4 separate regions of the Homo sapiens genome follow, and all the other regions are linked to region 1. The links come from fine-mapping of genetic effects on gene expression. A gene starts in region 1. Each other region holds a variant in brackets. All regions are shown on one strand. Distances are between the middles of the regions. Region 1 holds the start of HOXB-AS1 (HOXB cluster antisense RNA 1). Region 2 overlaps LOC124904019 (a long non-coding RNA gene). Region 3 overlaps CDK5RAP3 (CDK5 regulatory subunit associated protein 3). Region 4 overlaps SKAP1 (src kinase associated phosphoprotein 1).

Evidence for each region.
Region 2: its variant is fine-mapped to the expression of HOXB-AS1 in whole blood (INTERVAL, PIP above 0.99).
Region 3: its variant is fine-mapped to the expression of HOXB-AS1 in whole blood (INTERVAL, PIP 0.98).
Region 4: its variant is fine-mapped to the expression of HOXB-AS1 in whole blood (INTERVAL, PIP above 0.99).

What each region holds. Positions count from the first base shown.
Region 1 is chr17:48,541,939-48,547,196 of GRCh38, reverse strand. It overlaps HOXB-AS1 (HOXB cluster antisense RNA 1), which reads right to left and starts at 2,846. Exons shown (of 7, transcript NR_102279.1): 1 at 2,785-2,846; 2 at 1,840-2,076; 3 at 1,633-1,702. HOXB2 (homeobox B2) reads left to right here and starts at 2,088. Exons shown (of 2, transcript NM_002145.4): 1 at 2,088-2,676; 2 at 3,450-4,542. The coding sequence starts at 2,286. The coding sequence ends at 4,129. RefSeq lists an enhancer at 3,220-3,865 and a silencer at 3,673-3,962.
Region 2 is chr17:48,483,407-48,488,948 of GRCh38, reverse strand. It overlaps LOC124904019 (a long non-coding RNA gene), which reads left to right. Exons shown (of 2, transcript XR_007065828.1): 1 at 1-64; 2 at 1,843-2,017. Among named protein-coding and RNA genes, the nearest start is that of HOXB1, 45 kb to the left of the region's middle. RefSeq lists an enhancer at 4,639-5,542. The variant G/T (reference allele first, on the strand shown) is at 2,554.
Region 3 is chr17:47,973,864-47,978,863 of GRCh38, reverse strand. CDK5RAP3 (CDK5 regulatory subunit associated protein 3) reads right to left here. Exons shown (of 14, transcript NM_176096.3): 4 at 4,833-4,933; 5 at 4,416-4,464; 6 at 3,527-3,705; 7 at 3,211-3,350; 8 at 2,851-2,995; 9 at 2,042-2,152; 10 at 954-1,032; 11 at 1-35. Among named protein-coding and RNA genes, the nearest start is that of CDK5RAP3, 5.3 kb to the right of the region's middle. RefSeq lists an enhancer at 2,965-3,465. The variant C/T (reference allele first, on the strand shown) is at 2,590.
Region 4 is chr17:48,389,582-48,395,116 of GRCh38, reverse strand. All of the region lies in intron 2 of SKAP1 (src kinase associated phosphoprotein 1), which reads left to right. Among named protein-coding and RNA genes, the nearest start is that of SKAP1, 38 kb to the left of the region's middle. The variant T/G (reference allele first, on the strand shown) is at 3,047.

The DNA.
Region 1 (5,258 bases):
TGCTAATCTGGCCATAAAATCTGTCAGTGAGGGTTAGAGAGAGCTGTATTTCCTGCAGGGACAGTCTGCCCGAGTTGCCTGAGATAAGCTCTGGATCCTTCAGCCAGCTACAGAAGCTGTTGCTAAACTTTCAGAGGTGTTCAAGGGGGTGGCCAGAGGGAGAACCCACTCTCAGGCCTCCCTGCATGACTTCCAGACAGCTACTATTTGGATTATTCTATGCCCACCCCCATCCACACCTCTAAATGGCAAAAATTGTTTTCTTTGGAGCCTAGTTGCACACTACTGTCGCTGGCCACTTTGCCCAGGTCAGAGCAGCTCTCTCTGTTCTGAGCCCTCCAGAGCATGCCTCCTCGGTCCCTGCAGCCCCCACCTCCAACTCCCCTTTCTCCATCCTCCTCTCCCCCACCCTCATGCTTCTACTCAGACTTCTCTGTCCTTCTTTTTAAGTACTCACGCAGATGTTACACTGACAGAAAGTTTCTAGTTCCAGCTCCGGGCTCAGTTGCCATTTCTCTGCTAACCAGCCTTCTCCTCCTGGCTGGGCAGCAGAGAGAGAGGAGGGGGAGGGGAGGCCAAAGCCATGGGAGTTCTCCAGGCAAACTTTCCACCCAACTTAGCGCTTTCCCTCTGTCCCCATTTCCCATCTGTTTCCCAGCTCTCCCAGAATCACCCTTCTCTTTTGCACCCCCACCCCCACCCCCAGGCCTTTTTAAGGGATGTGAAATTTTGGCTGTTCGCTCTGCTTTCCCAAAGAGCCAAATTCTTTGATGCAATCGGAGGGAGCTGTCAGGGGGCTAAGATTGATCGCCTCATCTCCTCTCCATCCGTCTGACCCACTTATTTAAAAATCTTCCCCCAGATCGACTTTTCATTTTCTGCTTTGAGGCCTAGTTTCCCACCAATTGCTTGGGGCTCAGAGTCTTGTGCCCTCTCCCCATAGTAAATTACAACACTCTAAACTTCAGACTATCTTGGTCTCCTCAAAATAAAATAAATTTTAAAAACATTTTCCCCCAGCAGCCAGAAATGGAATATCATCTCAGTGGTCATTATTTCCACCCCTACCATCTTCAGGGAATTCTTCCTTGTCAGGGATTCTTTTTTTTTTTTTTTTCTTTTTTCTTTTTTAACTAGCACAATGGCAAAAATGGGAGGGAAAGTCTCTTTGTCCTAGGGGAAAATCTCCCCACCACACTCATGCACACACATAACGCTGATCTGAACTTTGAGAGTGCTCTAAGTTAAACCAATGGCTACCTCAGTTCTTGTTCATGTCCCTGGATATGGATACAGATACAAGCTTGAGGCTTGAGTGGGTACATGCACATCTTAGACTCTGCCTGTTTTTGGGGGATGTCACAGAGAAGCATGGAAGCCTGAAAGTGAGGAAAGCAGGGGTACATAAGGGGCAGAGGCAGTGCTGCAAACACTGGGCAGAGAAGAGAACCCAGACCATACAGCGATGGAGGCCAGAGGCCCAAAAATGCCCCTTATGCTCCATCTCACTCCTATGTGTCTGCCTGGGAGTTCCTGTCCATTTCCCAAGATTTAACTGTTGTTTTTGGAGGGTAACAGGGATAGTGGTGTGATGATTGTAAATCTCTTTCTTATTTTCACCTTAATACTGACCTTTTTCAAAGAGTGGAAGCCTCTTTCGACTCCCTCTTCCTCCAACGCGGAGATCCTCACTCATCTTTTCCTGGGGAAGGGGAGAAGGGAAGGGGATGCTGCTGGCCACGTAAAGAAGGCCTTAATTTACTCTATTAAAATACTTGGAAAAGAGGAAGGTTTCTCCCTTAGAGTCTCTTCTTTTCCAGGCTTCTGAAACCTTCTAACCTTCGAAGGGGATGAGGAAAAGGTTCCTCTAGCTTTTCTGGAGAAACGGAGGCATTGGGGAGAGAGCATGTGAGGCACTGGTGTAGGAATGGGGGCTCATGGTGTCCTGGTCGTGGTCCTCTGGTGTTTTTGAATCAATTAAACCAAATAATGCTCTCTGTTTTCCACCAGGCCCAGACGAGCGATTGGCGGAGGCCGGTCCCGTGACCACGAATTCCCTGTAATTTCGCTGGAGTCCTGGGTTTAATAGAGAGAGTCCCCATACGCTTGTATTTATCAGCAATATACAATTATAAAGGCCCAAAATTAAAAAAAAGAGAGACCGAAATCTCCCCCTCCCAAAATCGCTCCATTACATAAATCGGGGGGGGTGCAGGAGGGGGGTCCCTTCCGATCCTCCCTCCTGACGCCCCCCCCAGCAGCCCCCTCCCCCACCATTGAAAGCCATGAATTTTGAATTTGAGAGGGAGATTGGGTTTATAAACAGCCAGCCGTCGCTCGCCGAGTGTCTGACTTCCTTCCCCGCTGTCTTGGAGACATTTCAAACTTCATCAATCAAGGAGTCGACATTAATTCCTCCTCCTCCTCCTTTCGAGCAAACCTTCCCCAGCCTCCAGCCCGGCGCCTCCACCCTTCAGAGACCCAGGAGCCAAAAGCGAGCCGAAGATGGGCCTGCTCTGCCGCCGCCACCGCCGCCGCCACTCCCCGCTGCCCCCCCGGCCCCCGAGTTCCCTTGGATGAAAGAGAAGAAATCCGCCAAGAAACCCAGCCAATCCGCCACGTCTCCTTCTCCGGCCGCCTCCGCCGTTCCGGCCTCCGGGGTCGGATCGCCTGCAGGTCGGTAAGCGTGGTGGGGGTGGGGTGAGGGGCAGCTAGAAGAGGGGGAGAAAAAGCAGTGGAAGGAGGTTTAAAAAAAATGGTGGCGAGCCTGTTGGGGTTCCTTACCCCCTCCATTCCTGGGATGGGGAAGTAGAATATCCCACTGGGGTTCAGGCCTGGCCGCTAACAGCGTCTTTTTTTTTTTCTGTCTCTCTCTCTCTTTCTCTCCCTATGGCTGATTTTGGAAGCTGGTTGGGGAAACGCCTTTTTTTCTGCTAGAAGAAAATGATTTGATTGAGGTTTTCACCCGTATCTGTGTAGGGGAATGAGTATGTTGTTGCTGGGATAGACCCTAGAAGCAGAAAAGATTCGGTCCTTTCTGCCCCAACTCTAGGAGAAGAGGAAGAATTCAGAGCTAGGGAGGAAGAGGGGTGAAGAACAATCTTTCTGACCCTCGCTCCGGTTGAGTTGGAAAGTTCCGAATTGAGGGGTCCACTGGGAGGGCTTGGGAGGGGGATCTGAGGTTCCGGCGCCGAAGGGAGCCGCTCTCCGCCCCCTGCGTGGCCCGTGGGCGGCTCTGAATGCTTTGCCCTGACCCGGGCCGGGGCTGTAGACTAGAGAGGGAGAGAAGAAAACCCAAAAGCAGTAAAGCGAGCGGCTTTGGGGTGGGGGCGGGGGTGGGGTGGCGAGGAAGGGGAGAGGTGATACTGGTTTTGGAGGATGGGGTAGTCCGAACTGAGGTTGGGCTGAGTACACGGCCCGCTATGACGCCGAGCCTGTTTTCCCTGCAGATGGCCTGGGACTGCCGGAGGCTGGTGGCGGCGGGGCGCGCAGGCTGCGCACGGCTTACACCAACACGCAGCTGCTGGAACTGGAGAAGGAATTCCACTTTAATAAGTACCTGTGCCGGCCACGCCGCGTCGAGATCGCGGCCTTGCTGGACCTCACCGAAAGGCAGGTCAAAGTCTGGTTTCAGAACCGGCGCATGAAGCACAAGCGGCAGACGCAGCACCGAGAGCCGCCGGATGGGGAGCCTGCCTGCCCGGGAGCCCTGGAGGACATCTGCGACCCTGCCGAGGAACCCGCGGCCAGCCCGGGCGGCCCCTCCGCCTCGCGGGCGGCGTGGGAAGCCTGCTGTCACCCGCCGGAGGTGGTGCCGGGGGCCTTAAGCGCGGACCCCCGGCCTTTAGCCGTTCGCTTAGAGGGCGCAGGCGCGTCGAGTCCCGGCTGCGCGCTGCGCGGGGCCGGCGGGCTGGAGCCCGGGCCATTGCCAGAAGACGTCTTCTCGGGGCGCCAGGATTCACCTTTCCTTCCCGACCTCAACTTCTTCGCGGCCGACTCCTGTCTCCAGCTATCCGGAGGCCTCTCCCCTAGCCTACAGGGTTCTCTCGACAGCCCGGTCCCTTTTTCCGAGGAAGAGCTGGATTTTTTCACCAGTACGCTCTGTGCCATCGACCTGCAGTTTCCCTAACCTGTTTCCTCCTCCCGGTCCTTTCGACCCCCGCGCTCCTTGGCCGTCTACTGGAAAAATCGAGCCTCTCCCACCCTCAGTCGCATAGACTTATGTGTTTTGCTAAAATTCAGGTATTACTGAATTAGCGTTTAATCCACTCCCTTTCTTCTTCTTCTAAAATATTGGGCACTCGGTTATCTTTTAAAATTCACACAGAAAAATTCCGTTTGGTAGACTCCTTCCAATGAAATCTCAGGAATAATTAAACTCTAGGGGGACTTTCTTAAAAATAACTAGAGGGACCTATTTTCCTCTTTTTTATGTTTTAGACTGTAGATTATTTATTAAAATTCTTTAATAATAGGAAAAGGGGAAAGTATTTATTGTACATTATTTTCATAGATTAAATAAATGTCTTTATAATACCAAAACGAGTGTTTGTGTTGGGACCTAAACTCTTTCCCCGCGGCCCCAAGGCCGGTCCTCACCCCTCCAGGACCTGTGCGAAGTTGATTAGGTTCAGCGGCCCATATGGCAGCAAAGCCTCCAGGGCCGGCGAAGTCCGGGTGGTACAAAGGTGACCCGATTGATGGCCGCTTCGCCCACGGCTCCGGCAAAAGTCGGGAGTTTGCAGGAAGCTGGGTCACCTCCCCGCCCCTCAGCAGAGGGTCTTTGGTCCTGAGCGGGTGGTTCTGGGGCCTCTGCTTGGAAATAGAGATGGGCAGGTCGAGGGAGAGAGTGTACAGCGAACAGAGGAGGGTGAAAGGAGAGGAAGCCTGTGGACAGTCTTCAGGGTCGTGGCGGGGGCAGAAGTTTACTGGAATTGGGAACAATCCAAGGGCTTCCTAGGCTTTTGCTTCTTATGACCGAAGCCGGTGTAGGACCTTTTTCCGAACTCAAGAAGCCTAGGGACGCGAGGCCTGGGGCTTGAGCCGGGCCTCTTTGGGAGCTGTAGGTGGCTCTCCAAGGAGTGGAGTGGGGTCGGGGATTTTCTCGGGAAGCAGGGTCCCGCACCCAGGGATGGTAACTGGCTTCCCAGTGGGCAAGAAAAGAGGCCAGCTGAGAAATGTGGCGCTGCCGGGACACCCATGGACTCGGGCTGCTGGGGTTTGGGAGACCATCCAAGCAGCAGCCGGGCGAGAAGCCC
Region 2 (5,542 bases), 58 kb after region 1:
TCCTTGGTTGATCCTGTGCAGAAGTCGATAGCTTATCTCCACGCAGCAACCAGAAAGTGAGATGGTGAGTGCAGAAGCCAGCAACCCTGAGCATCTTGGGAAATGGCCTGCTGTTGTGAGCAGCTCTGCCCCCTACCCAACCCTACCCCCAAGCAAAGATCACCCACAGATACCTTTTGCCTGTCTGGTCTGTTATCCTACAATCAGAGGGGTCACTGGATTGGGAAAGAAAAAAGAAAAGGCACTGGATAGCTGGGGATGCACCACATGCCCTTGTCCTTCAGATGTCTAACTCAAAGGGAGTTCAAGTGCTGGTTTTGTCTCTGATGTGCTGTGCAATATCAGAAAGGTCACTCAGTCTCTGAAACTCCAATTTCAGTAGGCAAGTAGGCCCCAACCATAGTGGGCCTTTATGTATTTGAATCCAGGTTCAGAGCCCTAGTAGGTCCCAAGGAATGGAAAGTAATTGCTGTTTCCAGTAACTTCTGTTGGGGCATGCCCTTACCCTCTAGCACTTCCCTCTTCTGTCACTCTGTTCTGCACTCCAATGGTTAGACAAGGAAATTTTGTCCCTGGCAAAGATTTTCTCACCTGGAGTCCTCCCGGGTTCAATTCTGAGAACACCTGGGAGTTGGAAGTACATTTTTCATCAATTCTTTTTTTTTTGGAGATGGAGTCTCACTCTGTCACCCAGGCTGCAGTGCAGTGGCGCAATCTTGGCTCACTGCAGCCTTTGCCTCCTGGTTCAAGTGATTTTCCTGCCTCAGTCCCCTGAGTAGCTGGAACTACAGGCACCTGCCACCATGCCTGGCTAATTTTTGCATGTTTAGTAAAAACGGGATTTCACCATTTTGGCCAGGCAGGTCTCGAACTCCTGACCTTGTGATCCGCCGGCTTCGGCCTCCCAAAGTGCTGGGATTACATGTGTGAGCCACTGCGCCTGGCCCAATTTTTTTTTTTTTTTTTGAGACGGAGTCTCTCTCTGTTGCCCAGGCTGGAGTGCAGTGGCCGGATCTCAGCTCACTGCAAGCTCTGCCTCCTGGGTTCACGCCATTCTCCTGCCTCAGCCTCCCAAATAGCTGGGACTACAGGTGCCCGCCACCACGCCCAGCTAATTTTTTGTATTTTTAGTAGAGACGAGGTTTCACTGTGTTAGCCAGGATGGTCTTGATCTCCTGACCTTGTGATCTGCCCGCCTCGGCCTCCCAAAGTGCTGGGATTACAGGCATGAGCCACTGTGCCCGGCCCAATTCTTAATCTAATAAATATTCAACTTCTCTGCTAGAAAAATATTTTCCATTCCCACAGGCAATAAAAAGTAGAGAAATCCCTTCGTGTTTTGCTTCAGTCTAAGTCAGTAGTTCTCAACAGGGAGTGATTTTGTACCTCTTCATTCCCCCAAACACAGGGGATATCTGTTGTTATCTGAAGGCATTTTTGGTTGTCACAACTGGGAGGGGGTTGCTATGGGCATCTAGTGGGTAAAGGCCAGGGATGTCCCTGAACATCTTACAATGCACCAGTCAGCTCCCTACATCAGAGAAGGATCTGGCCCAGAATGTCAATAATGCTGAGGTCGAGAAACCCTGGTCTAAGTCATCATTAAGCAAGGTCCTTGGTGGAGTTTTGGGAGCTCACAGAATGTGGAGTTGGCATGGGCTTGCCCTCACAATGCTCCTGTATAATCTGGGTTAGGAGGCATCTTGTCTGATAAGAGAGACATAGTTCTTAACTTTGTGCTTGGGGAGTTTATAGTTTAAAGAGAATTGTATAGAAACATGATGCATTTAACCAATATTTATCCATTTAACATGTATTAATTGAGCTCCTATTGTATTCCAGGTTCTATGTATGGCACTAAAGATGCCCTAAATGAGTTCCCACTCCATGCACCTGGGAGAGAGTTTTCCTTCCCCTCAGTCCTGTTTCCAGTTACCACGGTGGGCAAGTTTTGCCTAATATGCTTGTGGGTGGGAAGGAAGGATATTCCAGAAGAATAAAAGGTAGTATAAAGAGATGCTAGAGAGCTGAGTACTTACAACACAGAGTATATGATGAACAGCACTTAGAAAAGTAGAAGCCAAACTTGTGGGAAGGAAAAAAAAAGACTTGAGTTTCATTGTAAGAGCAGGCATGCCTCCTGGAGTCAAGAAGGCAGCCCAGCACTGGAGACGCTGCTCAGACTTGAGACTGGTAACTGCGGTCAGACCCGGGTCAGGTGATTGGAATTCCCTCAGCTGCATGACTAACAGGATTCAACATGGACAGCCCCGCTCTTCAACATGCTTTGGAGCTCACAGCAAGTGTTCTGTGAACATGGTAGAAAGAGAGAAAACTTAGCAAGCACAGTGCAGACTGAAGTGCTCGGTTACTCTCACATGGAGATCTTCCTCCTTTGTATCCCTTGCACAGTAGAATTTGCCATGAATGGTGAAAGAGGAGGATCCCCAGAAAGTTGGGAGTAGGTCAAATACTTGATTCTGAATTGTCCTTCAGGAACTTTAGGGACATGAGCAAATTCCTTTTCTCATGAAGTAGGATGCAGAAGAAGTA[G/T]GCTTCATATAGGATTATTACATGCATTCATTTGAAATTTATTAAACACCCACAATGTGCAGGAATTATTCTATGTACTTCAAAGGTTTTTTTTGTTTTTTTTTTTTGAGATGGAGTCTCGCTCTTGTCTCCCAGGCTGGAGTGCAATGGCACGATCTCGGCTCATTGCAACCTCTGCCTCCCAGGTTCAAGTGATTCTCCTCCCTCAGCTTCCCAAGTAGCTGGGATTACAGGTGCCTGCCACCATGCCCAGCTAATTTTTGTATTTTTGGTAGAGACAGGGTTTCGCCATGTTGGCCAGGCCTCGAACTCTTGACCTAAGGTGATCCGCCTGCCTTAGCCTCCCAAAGTACTGGGATTACAGGCATGAGCCACTGCTCCCGGCCATACTTCAAAGTTACAAGGATATGTTTGTTCATTATTCATTCATTCACTAACAGTCATATAGTGAACCCCTACTATATGTCTGGCGCCATGCTAAATGGTTAGATACCGAAATGAAACAGTCTCTGTCTTCAAGAGTTCATAGGAAACAACCAGTTCTTAAATTTCAACCATGTACCAGGCATTGAGCCAAGAGCTTTATGCACATGATTTCTTTAATACTCACAACAACCTCAAGTCTACTTTATAGATGAGGAAAATAAAAGCCCAATAAGTTTAAGCCAACAGTATGGTTATTCTTCCAAAACTTGATAATAGAACTACCATAGGATTCACCAGTTCTACTTCTGGATATATATCCAAAAGAATTGAGGAAGTCAGGGTCTCAAAAAGATATCTGTACACCCATGTTCATAGCAGCATTATTCACAATGGCCAAAAAGTGGAAGCAACCCAAGTGTCCATCAGTGGATAAATAGATAAACAAAATGTGGCATATCCATAAAATGGAATATTATTCAGCCTTAAAAAGGAAAGAAATTGAAGGCCGGGCATGGTGGCTCACGCCTGTAATCCCAGCACTTTGGGAGGCCGAGGCAGGCAGATCATGAGGTCAGGAGATCGAGACCATCCTGGCTAACATGGTGAAACGCCGTCTCTACTAAAAATACAAAAAATTAGCTGGGCGTGGTGGCGCACACCTGTAGTCCCAGCTACTCGGGAGGTTGTGGCAGGAGAATGGCATGAACCCAGGAGGCGGAGGTTGCAATGAGCCCAGATCATGCCACTGCACTCCAGCCTGGGGGAAAGAGCATGAGACTCCATCTCAAAAAAAAAAAAAAAAAAAAAAGGAAAGAAATTTTGACATGTGCTACAACATGAATGAACCTTGTGAGGACATTATGCTAAGTGAAATAAGTGATTCACAAAAGGACAAATACTGTGTGGTTCCACTCATGAGTCATCAAATTCATGGTGATGGAAAGTAGAGTGGTGGTTGTCAGGGACTGAAAGGGAATGGAGAATGAGGAACCGTTGTTTAATGGGTACAGCTTCAGTTGTTCAAGATGAAAAAAGGTTGCAATATAACGTCAATATACTTAACACTGCTAAACTATACACTTAACAATCATTAAGATGGTGAATTTTATGTTATGCATATTTTACCACAATTAAATTTTTTTTAAAAAGTTTAAGCCATGTAACCCAGGTCTGATTCTAAGATCCCATTAGTTTCTTTCATCACAAAACAACTATAAGACAAGGGGAATGTGACATTAGAAGTATAAGCAAGGAATAATTTACTAATGTGTTATCCTTTGCATCTGAAGATAACAGCATTACTAGTTCTCTTTGGGCAACTGTGGCTACAAAGAGAGGCAAAAGCCCATAGCCCCTAAGTCAAGATTTAACACCGTTCACAGAGTCTGATGAAGTTGGAGATTCAGACTTGTCCTCGCTAAGTCATTGTTCAGGAAGATCTTCACCCCATCTCCCTTCTCACTCACATTCCTTTTTTGTCCACTCATGTGACCTCTGCAACTGCTCACAGCCAAGAACTGAGATTCACTCCTGGTGGAAACAAATATTCTGAAGGCAGAAAGTGCCAGCCCCCATCAGATTTTGAAGGAGGCCAAGTTTATCTTTCAGGCCTTGGGCTTTTGTTTTCTGCAACTGGCACCAGGCTTAGAGTCGGGACACCTAAGTTCTAGCATCCTAAGCCATATTAACTTGCTGTATGATGCTGTGAAAGACACTCCTCTCTGGGCTTTGGTTTCCTCATCTGCAACAGGAGGAGTCTGGCTCATGATTGCTGAAGCTTCCCCTCCAGCACTAACCTTGTAGAAGTTTTGAACCATTTGGCCCCTTAACTCCATTGCCTCACCAGGCTCTCTCAGAAAAACTAAATTTCTCTTTCAGCAAAACTGCTGTGGACAGGGTCTGATAAATTCATTCCCACAGAGGCACATTCTGTCCCATGGTATTTGCATTTCCATTTGGATCCAGATGAAAGGGAATGAGACTCTCACTTAGGAATGTCTTTTGATTCAATGAGCAACAGGCTTTTTGAAGGGGCAGGGTGGAGGTGGGGAGAGGGACTCACCCCAGGCTGCCAACTAGTGAAGCAAGCCCTGGGCCAGGACTCAGCCCTCAGGTGGAGATCTTGGTGTATCTCTCCAAGCATGACCTTTTTGTACTGGCCCAGGTGTGAACCCACCATGCAGCTTCCTCTTTTTCTGGGGGCTCTGCAGGGATGCTGGCGGCCTCTCTGTCCCTGGAGAAGAGAGTTCCAGCTCAGATACCAATGAAGTCATCGAGATCCGTGGTCTGAGCTGGAATCCGGAATCTGGCAGGAGGGCCCACACGGCAGCTGTTTGTGGTTTCTCTTTTCCTCTGAAGGAAAGTCTGAGCAGATGATGGCCTAGGTGCTGCCTGTTTCCATGTGAGGGAGGAGCAGGATGTGGCTGCGGATCAGTGGAACAGGAGGGGAATTGGCAAGCAGAGTCTGAGTGATACATAGATTACTTATTTCATGAGATGAAAGATCCCAACCTCTCCCAGAGAACTTCCTCAAATCTGCTTTTGTTCTTGAGAAAACTCATTT
Region 3 (5,000 bases), 570 kb after region 1:
CAGGGCATCTGGGCCCCTGGCAACACCTTCTGGAGCTGCCAGGAAGAGACAGAGAAGTGATAAAGGATCAGAGGACTGGAGAAGGAAAAGACCCTCAAGTGTGAGAAGCCCTGGAGGATTAATACGGACAGACTCACTGTGCTAAAGCCACTTCTTGTTCTAATCCAAGGGGGAAGGCTACCTTGTCCCAGGTGTCTCAGCTCTAATCAGGTACCACTTTCCAACTCCCAGACTGAGAGGAGGACCAGAGCTGGGTTCAGAGGGGTAGAAAGGCCGGCTCTCTGCTCTGGTGGACCGCAGGAGGTAAAGTTTCATCCTGCACCGCCCTCTAGTGGCTCAGACACCACTACGTCTTCTCTGCTGTTGGGGCGGGGGTCATGTCACACTCCAGGGCCCCGATCCCCCTAGAGCCCTCCTACCATAACAGCTGGCCCACATGTGGTCTCTAAAAAGTTGAGAGTTTCTAAACTCTCAACTTTTAAGAACCTCTCTTGGGCCAGGCACGGTGGCTCACACCTATAATCCCAGCATTTGGGAGGCCGAGGCAGGTGGATCACCTGAGGTCAAGAGTTCGAGACCAGCCTGACCAACATGGAGAAACCCCAACTCTACTAAAAAAATATAAAATTAGCTGTGCGTGGTGGTGCATGCCTGTAATCCCAGCTACTCGGGAGGCTGAGGCAGGAGAATAGCTTGAACCCAGGAGGTGGAGGTTGCAGCGAGCTGAGATCATGCCATTGCACTCCAGCCTGGGCAACAAGAGCGAAACTCCGTCTCCAAAAAAAAAAAAAAAACCTCTCTTGGTCCCCCTCAGCTCACATCCTCATCAAGGTTTTGAGAAACAGTTAAATGTGCAAGAAGCCTCATCTTAGCGCTGCATTTTTTGTTTCTAGACACGTGGGGGCCCTTGAGCACCCCACTTTTGCCAGGGCTGCAGGGGATGGTGCACTTACCCTGGGTTCCTGCTTCCAGCACTGTGATCTGCAAAGCAACAGCATCGTCTCCCCAGTCTATCCCATCACCTCCAGGATCCTGGAAGGAGAGCAAAGAACCACAGCAATGGGGGGAGAATTTTCCTGAGCCAAGGAGCCAGAATAAACCAAAGCCCTTGATGAGGTCAATGGCTGCACATTCCAACTCTATTAAGGATTTGCAGCCCTGACTTAGGTGCCAAAAATGGCAGTATGGCCCATCATCCCTGCTCTGTAGTGTTCCCACCTGCCTTTACCCCTACACCCTGTACCAAACACCAAGAAAAAGGACATCAAAATTTAACTCTCACATGGGCTGGGCGCAGTGGCTCACGCTTGTAATCCCAGCACCTCAGGAGGCCGAGGCAGGTGGATCACCTGAGGTCAGGAGTTACCAGCATGGCCAACACGGCGAAACCCTGTCTCTATTAAAAATACAAAAATTAGCCGGGCGCGGTGGCTCACGCCTGTAATCCCAGCACTTTGGGAGGCTGAGGCGGGCGGATCACGAGGTCAGGAGATCGAGACCATCTGGCTAACATGGTGAAACCCCATCTCTACTAAAAATACAAAACAATTAGCCGGGCGTGGTGGCGGGCGCCTGTAGTCCCAGCTACTCAGGAGGCTGAGGCAGGAGAATGGCGTGAACCCGGGAGGCAGAGGTTGCAGTGAGCCAAGATGATGCCACTGCACTCCAGCCTGGGCGACAGAGTGAGACTCTGTCTCAACAAACAAACAAACAAAATAAAAAATTAGAGGGGTGTGGTGGTGGGCGCCTATAATCACAGCTACTTGGGAGGCTGAGGCAGGAGAATCACTTGAACCTGGGAGGCGGAAGTTGCAGTGAGCCGAGATTGCACCACTGCACTCCAGCCTGGGCGACAGAATGAGACTCTGTCTCAAAAAACAAAACAAAACTCTGACATGTGACGTGTGAAACTCTGCCTCCCTTGGACTATACCTGGTCTTAGAGCTATGAACTTCAAGTGATGCCGTTACAGACACAAATGACACTTTTCTTATGGTTAGAGTAGTGATCAGAGAGAGACAGACTGAGAAGGCCTCCTCACCTTTGAATCTGATTCCGGGAAGATGCCCCAGTCGATTCCAGCAGCCTCGGCAGAGATGCCAGAGTCAGTCCCCTCAGACACTGCCTCTACCCCAAAGTCGCCCCAGTCAATCTGGAAAGGGAAAGAGAGTGTTAGCTCATGGAAGATGGATTTAAAAAGGGCCGGGCATGGTGGCTCATGTCTGTAACCCCAGTACTTTGGGAGGCCGAGGATAGTGGATTGCTTGAGCCCAGGAGTTTGAGACCAGCCTGGGCAATATGGCAAAATCCTGTCCCTACAAAGATGTTAATAAAAAATTAGCTAGGAGTGGTGGTGCAAACCTGTAATCCCAGCTATCTTGGAGGCTGACTTGGGAGGATCGCTTGAGGCTGAGAGGCAGAGGTTGCAGTCAGCAAGGATCATGCCACTGCACTCCAGCCTGGGCAACAGAGCAAGGCCCAGTCTCAAAAATAAATTAATTTAAAAAGGAGGGTGGGGCTGCCTTCCCACAGGCCTCAGCTGCTTCTGTAGAGAGCACACTGTTCAAATGCAGTGGCCTCTAAGCTACC[C/T]CAAAGAAAGCCCATCTTCAGAGAGCTCACATGATGGAGGTTCCGAGTTCAAAGCGAACCACCTTGCAAAGCCTCTGTGGCACTCACTCACCTATACTCAGAAAAATAAAGGAGTAGGGCCTCCTGGGCCCTTCTACCTACAGTCACTCTCACAGAAATCCTCCCTTCTTCTCTCTGGGTCTTGGGTTGGGCTGTTGGGGGTGGGGAGGGGACAAGCAGCTCCCACTCCACTCCTACAGCTCATCACAAGGCCCATCTTACCGCATCTTCTGCCACCTGCTCAGGAAGCTCCTCGAGGTGGGGTCGTTCCACCACAGAGGGCTCTGTCCCTGTCCTCCACTCGTACACCGTTGAGTTTCCCCGCTTCTGCACGAACCGCAGCATTGGCAACACCTGCTCTGTGGGGCTTCAACAGAGCACACAACTGACTCTCCTGCCGACCATGCGTAAGGCCAACACTGGGCTTTGGCCTGGGCCACATGGTCAAATGGGCAAGGCCCCCACAGGTTCAGGTGTGTAAAGAGTTCAAATGTTATATGGGAACAAGACAACTGGAGAAGGGTCATGAGCTGGGGAACACAGGCAAAGCACCCCCACCAGGAGAAGCTGAGGCCTCTCTACCTCTCACACACAAACCCCACAGACGCCTGGTACACGTCAATGGCTTCCCCCAGGGACTGCTGAGCCGCTGCCCCAATCTCAGCCAGCTGACTCGGCAGGTCCTTCACCAGGGCCAGCAGTTCTCCTCGGACATTTTCGCCCTAGAGAGGGGAGAAGAGGTGGAGTCCAACAGATTGAAGAAAACATCCAAAGACCGAAGAAAAGTAAGACACTGGCCCAAAGGGGGTGCAACCAGGCTGAGGGGTCAGACGGGGTCAGAGGAAGACAAGCAGGGGCCCAGGTGTCCTCTGGCTGCGAAGAGGCTGCCGCCGCTCACCGTGATGCCATACTGCTTGCAGGAGTGGTAGAACTGCTCCCGCATCTCGGCAGCCCCTGCCTGGCACTCCTCCTCCTTGCGGCTGTATTCTTGCTGCAGCTGCTGGCACTTGGCAATCTGCTTCTTCAGTGAGGGGATCTCATAGTTGACATTCCGAACCAGGAGGCTAGAGAGTTCCACTGAGAAGTGCCCAGGAAATTCAGCCCAGGACACCCCCACATGAGGCAGGCATGCCCCAGGATGCACACACATCCTTTGTGGTGGTGAAGAGCACGAAGTCAGCTTCCCAGCCCCACTTGTTCCCAGCTGTGGAGCCTAAGACAAGTTGTTTAACCCCTCTAATCCAACCCTCATCGGTAAAACAGCGACAATAACATTTATCATGAAGATGCAAGAGAGAATCCACATGACACACCAAGCACAATTCCTTGCATTTAGTAGATGCTCAGGAAATATTAGCCATTATTATTATTTATACTACACCCAACCCAAACACAGTTAGTCCTGTAGTTGCTCTCAGGCACTTGATATTCGCTCCCAGAAAAACCCGTGCCTCTTCTGCCTTGTGTAGAATGGGGGTGCGGGGGTGGGGGTGGGGGCAGCACACTCCCGCTAACCAAGAGGTGAGTGGTGGAGGACCCACACACACCTGCTCGCTGAGGCACGGCGAATGGCCACTACCGGCCTGGACCTCCTCCTTCCCCCAGCACTCCACTCAGGGAAAATCAATTCCATCAAAAACAATTGATTTTACCACCTACAAATGGGCAACATCTACACTCCAGTCTCTTCCCACTCACAGACTGTGCCTCCTATAAGCCTGGTATCTCAGAACTCTGAGAGTGGGCTTCCCCATGGATACCAGGGCTCCCAGGCCGGGCCACTTTACCTAAGTAGGTGTTGTCCTTCTCATACAGAGCTATAATCTCCTGCCAATCCTGAGTAAGAACAGAAAAACAATGTTAAGCCAGAAAAGCACTCGACAGCCACATCCCAGCTCAATCCCTAAACAGGGTAAGTTCTCCCAGCCTTTACATCACATCAAACACAAACTCCTTGTCCTTCTTTCAACTCTGCTGGCTGGACCACCCACTTTAAGAGTGCAGGCAATCCCTAAAGCAGTGGGTTTGAAAATTAAACTCAGGGATAGGATCCACTTTTGGAGTAAACTATAGAGACAGAGTGAAAGTTCAGGAAATATTCTATGTAGGCATCCCCACTGGAGCCTCAGAGAGACCACAGAGGCTATGACTCCTCGGATTGGATGTCCCCAACCACATACTACCGGCCCTTGGCCCACACTTGCCTTCATCCGCTGTGAAGAGTATCGGCCAAAAATATTCTTCGTGGAGGCCTCTGTGCCTTTGAGAAGGTCCAGGATTCTTAGGCAGTGAAAGTAGTGAATGTCTAGAAAGCAAGAGACGGGATTTCGAGAACTAAAGTATCTTCTTCACCTACTCTGGGCACTGCAGGT
Region 4 (5,535 bases), 150 kb after region 1:
ATAGAGTCAGTTTCTTGTTCTCAAATTCTTGTTCTCAAAGAACTTTGTGTGTGGTTTGTGGGGTAGACATTCAGGAAATCATCAGCGGGAACTTTAGGAAATATCTGCATTGTTGATGGGAGCTTTCTGTTCATTGACTTGTTGCAAGAAAGATGACACTTTATTTAGAATTTCATAATTATCAGATCACTGAGGAAATGAGGAGCCAGAAATTAGATACTGTACAAGAAAATAGAAAAACGAGGCTTTCCTTTGGCAAGCTGTTTGAAATTGCCTTACATCCACCCATTCAATCATCATTCTGTTAATGTAACCCTTGTTTTCCTGAATCCTCTTCTTCAGCCATATCACCTCTATTGTGCCATTTATAGCTGCCACATTTACTTATGTTGTGTGGCAGTTATATGTCCCCCAAAAAGCTTGGCATAAAAAGAAATTTAGAAGTCATCAAACTTGAGAGTTAAACATGTATGGCAGGCTAAACGCAGTGGCTTACTCCTATAATCCCAGCACTTTGGGAGGCTGAGGCCAGAAGATCGCTTGAGGCCAGGAGTTTGAGACCAGCCTGGGCAACATAACAAAACTCTCTCTCTACAAAAAATAAAAAGTTAGCCAGGTGTGGTGGTATATGCCTGTGGTCCCAGCCATTTGGGAGGCTGAGGTAGGAGGATCACTTGAGCCTAGCAGGTTGAGGCTGCAGTGGGCCATGATCATTACATTGCACTTCAGCCTGGGCGACCAAGTGAGACTCTGTCTCAAAAAAAAAAGAGTAAAAAATAAACATACGGCAAATACATGAACCATACAGTAACACAAAAATAATTAAAATTAATGAAGATCATTTAAAAGGGTTTCTTTTTAGTCATTTTTTTGTTTGTTTGTTTTTCGCTTTTTTAGACAGAGTCTCACTCTGTGGCCCAGGCTGGAGTGCAGTGGCACAATCACAGCTTGCTGCAGCCTCGACCTCCTGGGCTCAAGCGATCCCCCGACCTCAGCCTCCTGAGTAGCTGCACATCACCATGCCTGGCTAATTTTTTACTTTTTGTAGAGACAGGGTGTCACTGTGTTGCCCAGGCTGGTCTGGAACTCTTGCACTCAAGCAGTTCTCCTGTCTTGGCTTCCCAAAATGCTGAGATTACAGGCCTGAGTCTCTGTGCCTGGCCTATTTTTAGTCAGATTAAAACAATAATATTTTAGGAGTTTGATAAATTTGGGGGGGGTGGTAACCTATCTAAAACTATAATTTAGCACTTCAAGTCTTATTTGGAAGGTAGATAAATCTCTAGCAAGATAATCTGGAAAAGCCACTACTAGATAAATGTAAATTATATATTTACACACACATATATATATATTTTACAACTTCCTAGTCTCTTTGTTGTTTCCTTGCTTCCTTTAATTCTTTCCTCAACGTGTATTGCTCTAGAAACAAAAGGGTGGAGAGAAATAAAAGTAGCACTGTCTGTGATTCTTGGTAAACTTTAGGGGCTTAGCTCTTATTTTTATGGCTGGCTTGGCATTCACTGGTATTTGCCATGGTTGTGGACTTGCTGTAAATGGAAGCATCTGACTCTATCACAGCTATTATAATGTGCTTTTTGCTATTTTTTGTTGTCTAGAGTGAATGACCACAGGAAAAGACAATTGTGTCAAGAATCCTGGGTGTTCTCCAAGTGCTCATGTTTTTCAGTACAAATCACTTTAGCTATTCTGTTTTTAGACTTAGAAACAAAAAATAGCTATCTTTTTTTAGACTTAGAAACAAAAAATAAAATCCTATCTATATTTACATACTCTTTTCTTTTTGTTTGAAAGTGTTACCAATGAAGGCTAATATTTTCCATGTAACACAAAATAAAAACGGATAGCAATTTCTGTGATTCCAAGGAAATGAAGCCCTATTGTGGTATTTGTTGTCCTAAGCTGTGATTTTCATTGCTTTTCTTAAAAACTAAACAGCTTTCACATTCCAAGTCTAAGTTTTCATTGAGCCCTTTGGAGAGTGGCTAGTATGAAAGCCAGGCAAAGGCACTTCCTGCTTTATTACGATGGTCACTGCAGGATTAGCACCAGATGTGAGACACCTGGAATGAAGCAGTTGTGATCTGTGCTCAGACACTTGATGGCATTCTAACGCATTGGGAGAAACAGTAGAGCATTTTTTAAATGTTTGATTCAGTGGAGGCCATCTGACTGCAAGAATACGTTGAGAGTGGGGGAGGGGTAAAGAAAAAAAAAATATATATATATATATTTTTTTTGAGACCGAGTCTCTGTTGCCCAGGCTAGAGTGCAGTGGTGCGATCTTGGTTCATTGCAACCTCCACCTCCCAGGTTCTGGCGATTCTTGTGCCTCAGCCTCCCAAGTAGCTGGGATTACAGGCATGAGCCACCACACCTGGCTAAAGGTTTTTGTATTTTTGGTAGAGATGGGGTTTTACCATGTTGGCCAGGCTGGTCTCTCCTGACCTCAGGTGATCCACTCACCTTGGCCTCCCAAAGTGCTAGGATTACAGGAGTGAGCTACCACGCCCAGCCAAAAATAGAATATTTTTATTATTGAGATATGGCTTAATTTCTCTCTCAATGGCCCTTCTTGGATAAGTAGTCATTTATGCTCCCTGTTGGAAGTGAAGGACAGAGCCAATGGAAGCAAACTTGGAGTATTGTTTCCTTCTGTGAAACTTAGTAATGCTGAAGGAGTTCCAAAAAGAGACCAGTAGATTTATATCATATTGAGATGGAAAGAAATAAAGAAATACATTTTGTGTAACAGGGTTATGGCACAAAACTCAGGACATTTAAACTACAGGCTGAAAGAATATCTTGAACGTGTCTCATTTGTGGGTGGCTAACCTATAGCTCTGTGTGAAACATGATATACTAGTAAAATCTCATAAAAATAATTCTGACTTTCTTTGGGAATTTCATGTTTTCTTTTCAGCTTAACGTGGATTTAGCTTTAAAACAAGATTTAGCTTAAGAATGTATAATTCTGATATTTTTGTATTATAGGAAGAAAGACAAGGAGTTAGCCTGATAAAAC[T/G]CTTGGGAGCAAGAGTTTTGAAGTAGTATACTGTAAATATAATTACCATTAATTATATAGAGAGTTTTACTTTTCTTAAATGTTAATTATTGAGCTTAAAAATCCCCAAAACAAAACACATTCAAATGAAGTATGCTTATCAAAAGAACTAATGTATAATGTGCTATTAATACATTTATGTTATTCACAAGTTTCAAGATTTACTCATAACATCTTTTTCTGTTTTTTAATTTTGCTACTTGTACTGGAGCTTCAGTGCCAATGCAGAAAAAAAAAAAAAAAAAAAGGAAGAGGTAGTTGAATGATCCGTCTAAGTTTAAATAGCTCTGAAAAGGCTCAAAAGTCATAGCAATAATTTGACCACATCTGGAAGGTTAATAACTCATTTCTTCCTTTTTCAGTCTTATCCCTCCCTCCCATCCTTAAAGGAAGAAAAAACAAACCCACAACAACTTCAACATTATTACTCAACTCATCAGTTATATCAGTCAAATTTTTGCTTAGTTCTCTGTTATTCAGTGGATGAATGTTGAGATTTCACAACTGAGTTAAAGAGTTTTGTGAATCTACTTCTCTAGGAATGAGAGGTTGTATTTATTGCTGTTTTAATCTGGAATGCCCTACAGGTGAGAAAGATAGAATATTACTTACTGTTGATCTCTTGGCTTAACTTTTAAGACCTGGTAAGGAAGATCATCTTATGTGTTTTTTATGGCAAGTCTCTGTCCTTTCAAAATAGCTTTGAAATGTATAACTCTCCTTATAATTTTATCATAATGATTATTTTGTTTATTCTTTCATATGTGAGGCTATCTGGAAGTAGAACAATTTTTCTTAAATAACATTTTTTAATGTAATAATGACCATAGTCCTTGGTGGTTCAGAATAAACCATACCTTTTATATTTTCATTTTATATCTTTAAGATTTTAGATTGAAGTTCAGAAAAATGTTTTTGATGTTGTTGTTGTTGTTGTTAGTTAGTTAGTTTTTTGTTTTTTTGAGACAGAGTCTCATTCTGTCACCCAGACTGGAGTGCAGTGGCATGATCTTGGCTCACTGCAACCTCCGCAAATTCAAGCAATTCTTGTGCCTCAGCCACCCGAGTAGCTGGGACTACAGGCGTGCACCACCATACCTGGCTAATTTTTGTATTTTTAGTGAAGACGGGGTTTCACCATGTTGGCCAGGCTGATCTTGAACTCCTGGCCTCAAGCAGTCCACCCACCTTGGCCTCCCAAAGTGCTGGGATTACAGGCGTGAGCCACCGCACCTAGGACAATGTATTTTTAAGAGAGTTTTTAGATCACTTGCAAAACTAGATCATGTATAATTCTTCCCAGTACTGAGCTCCTCAATCAAGAGTGAAAAGGAGTTTGGGATTGTGAGCTAGAACACAGGCAGGTAACTGAACTTGCACCCTTACAGTCTGACTAACCCATTAGAATAATAAGCTGAGCCGTACTCTTTAACTGTATAGTTAGGTCACTGAAATTTGCTTTACTCCTGATAGAATTTTAGCCATCGTTATCACTTGGGCACATTCCTATTAGCTACTCAATATGGATTTGTCTTGGTTTCAGAAAATCCTGTGTCCTTTTTTTTTAATACGTGAAGCCTCACTGTCTGTAGATGGACTTAATTCATACATTGTGTGAAAAGATCATCTGTATGAAATTACTGCCTTCATTTTTATCACCATTTGCTTTGGCTTTGATTTTAAGTCTCATTTGATCTGGAGCTAGCCTTTTGTCCCAGAGCTATGCTATTTTCTCTGTTTAAGGAAAGCCAATGAAAAAGGCCTCTCTGTATTTATCTGTTTGTGGATTCCAGGAACCTGTGGCTTGGGACCTTACTGATGATGGTTTTCTCTAATTTGCATGTTTTCTCTTGTTTCTGATATGGACCCAGCCTGTATCCACTTTCTGTGTTACAGGGAAACTGGAACAGAGGGGAGGGAAATGCAAGAGCACTGGGCCAAGTGTCAGGAGCCAAGCCCTTTGTTCTGATGTTACTTCTGTAACACTGAGTCACTTGAAGATTCCCCTAATGATAATCTTATGTTTTCTTTTTAGGTTGCTTACCCAAAATGTTGTTTGGAATTATTTTTTTAAATAAATGTTCCAAAAATGCACACATTACCAACCAAACCTTAAAACTTCTATTTGATTTCTTTTATGGTACCCCCATGACTTTTTAAAAAATTTGGAATGTGATGCAGGAAATTTCATTTCTTGGGATTTTATTTTATTTCATGATTCTGTTGAAAATGAGTTGAGCATAAAGTGGGTTTTTATAATCACACCATGTGAATCATTTCTTCTTTGGATTCTGGATCTTCTCTCCTAGTGTGTAGCCTCCTCTAGTCTCCCTGAAGTACAGTGCTAGCAGGGTTGATAATGAAATGCAGTCCTGCTTATCACACTCAGCAAAGGGCTCAGAGAAGATGGGAAAAAAATCAATCCCACAGGAACTTCTCGAGTGCTAGAC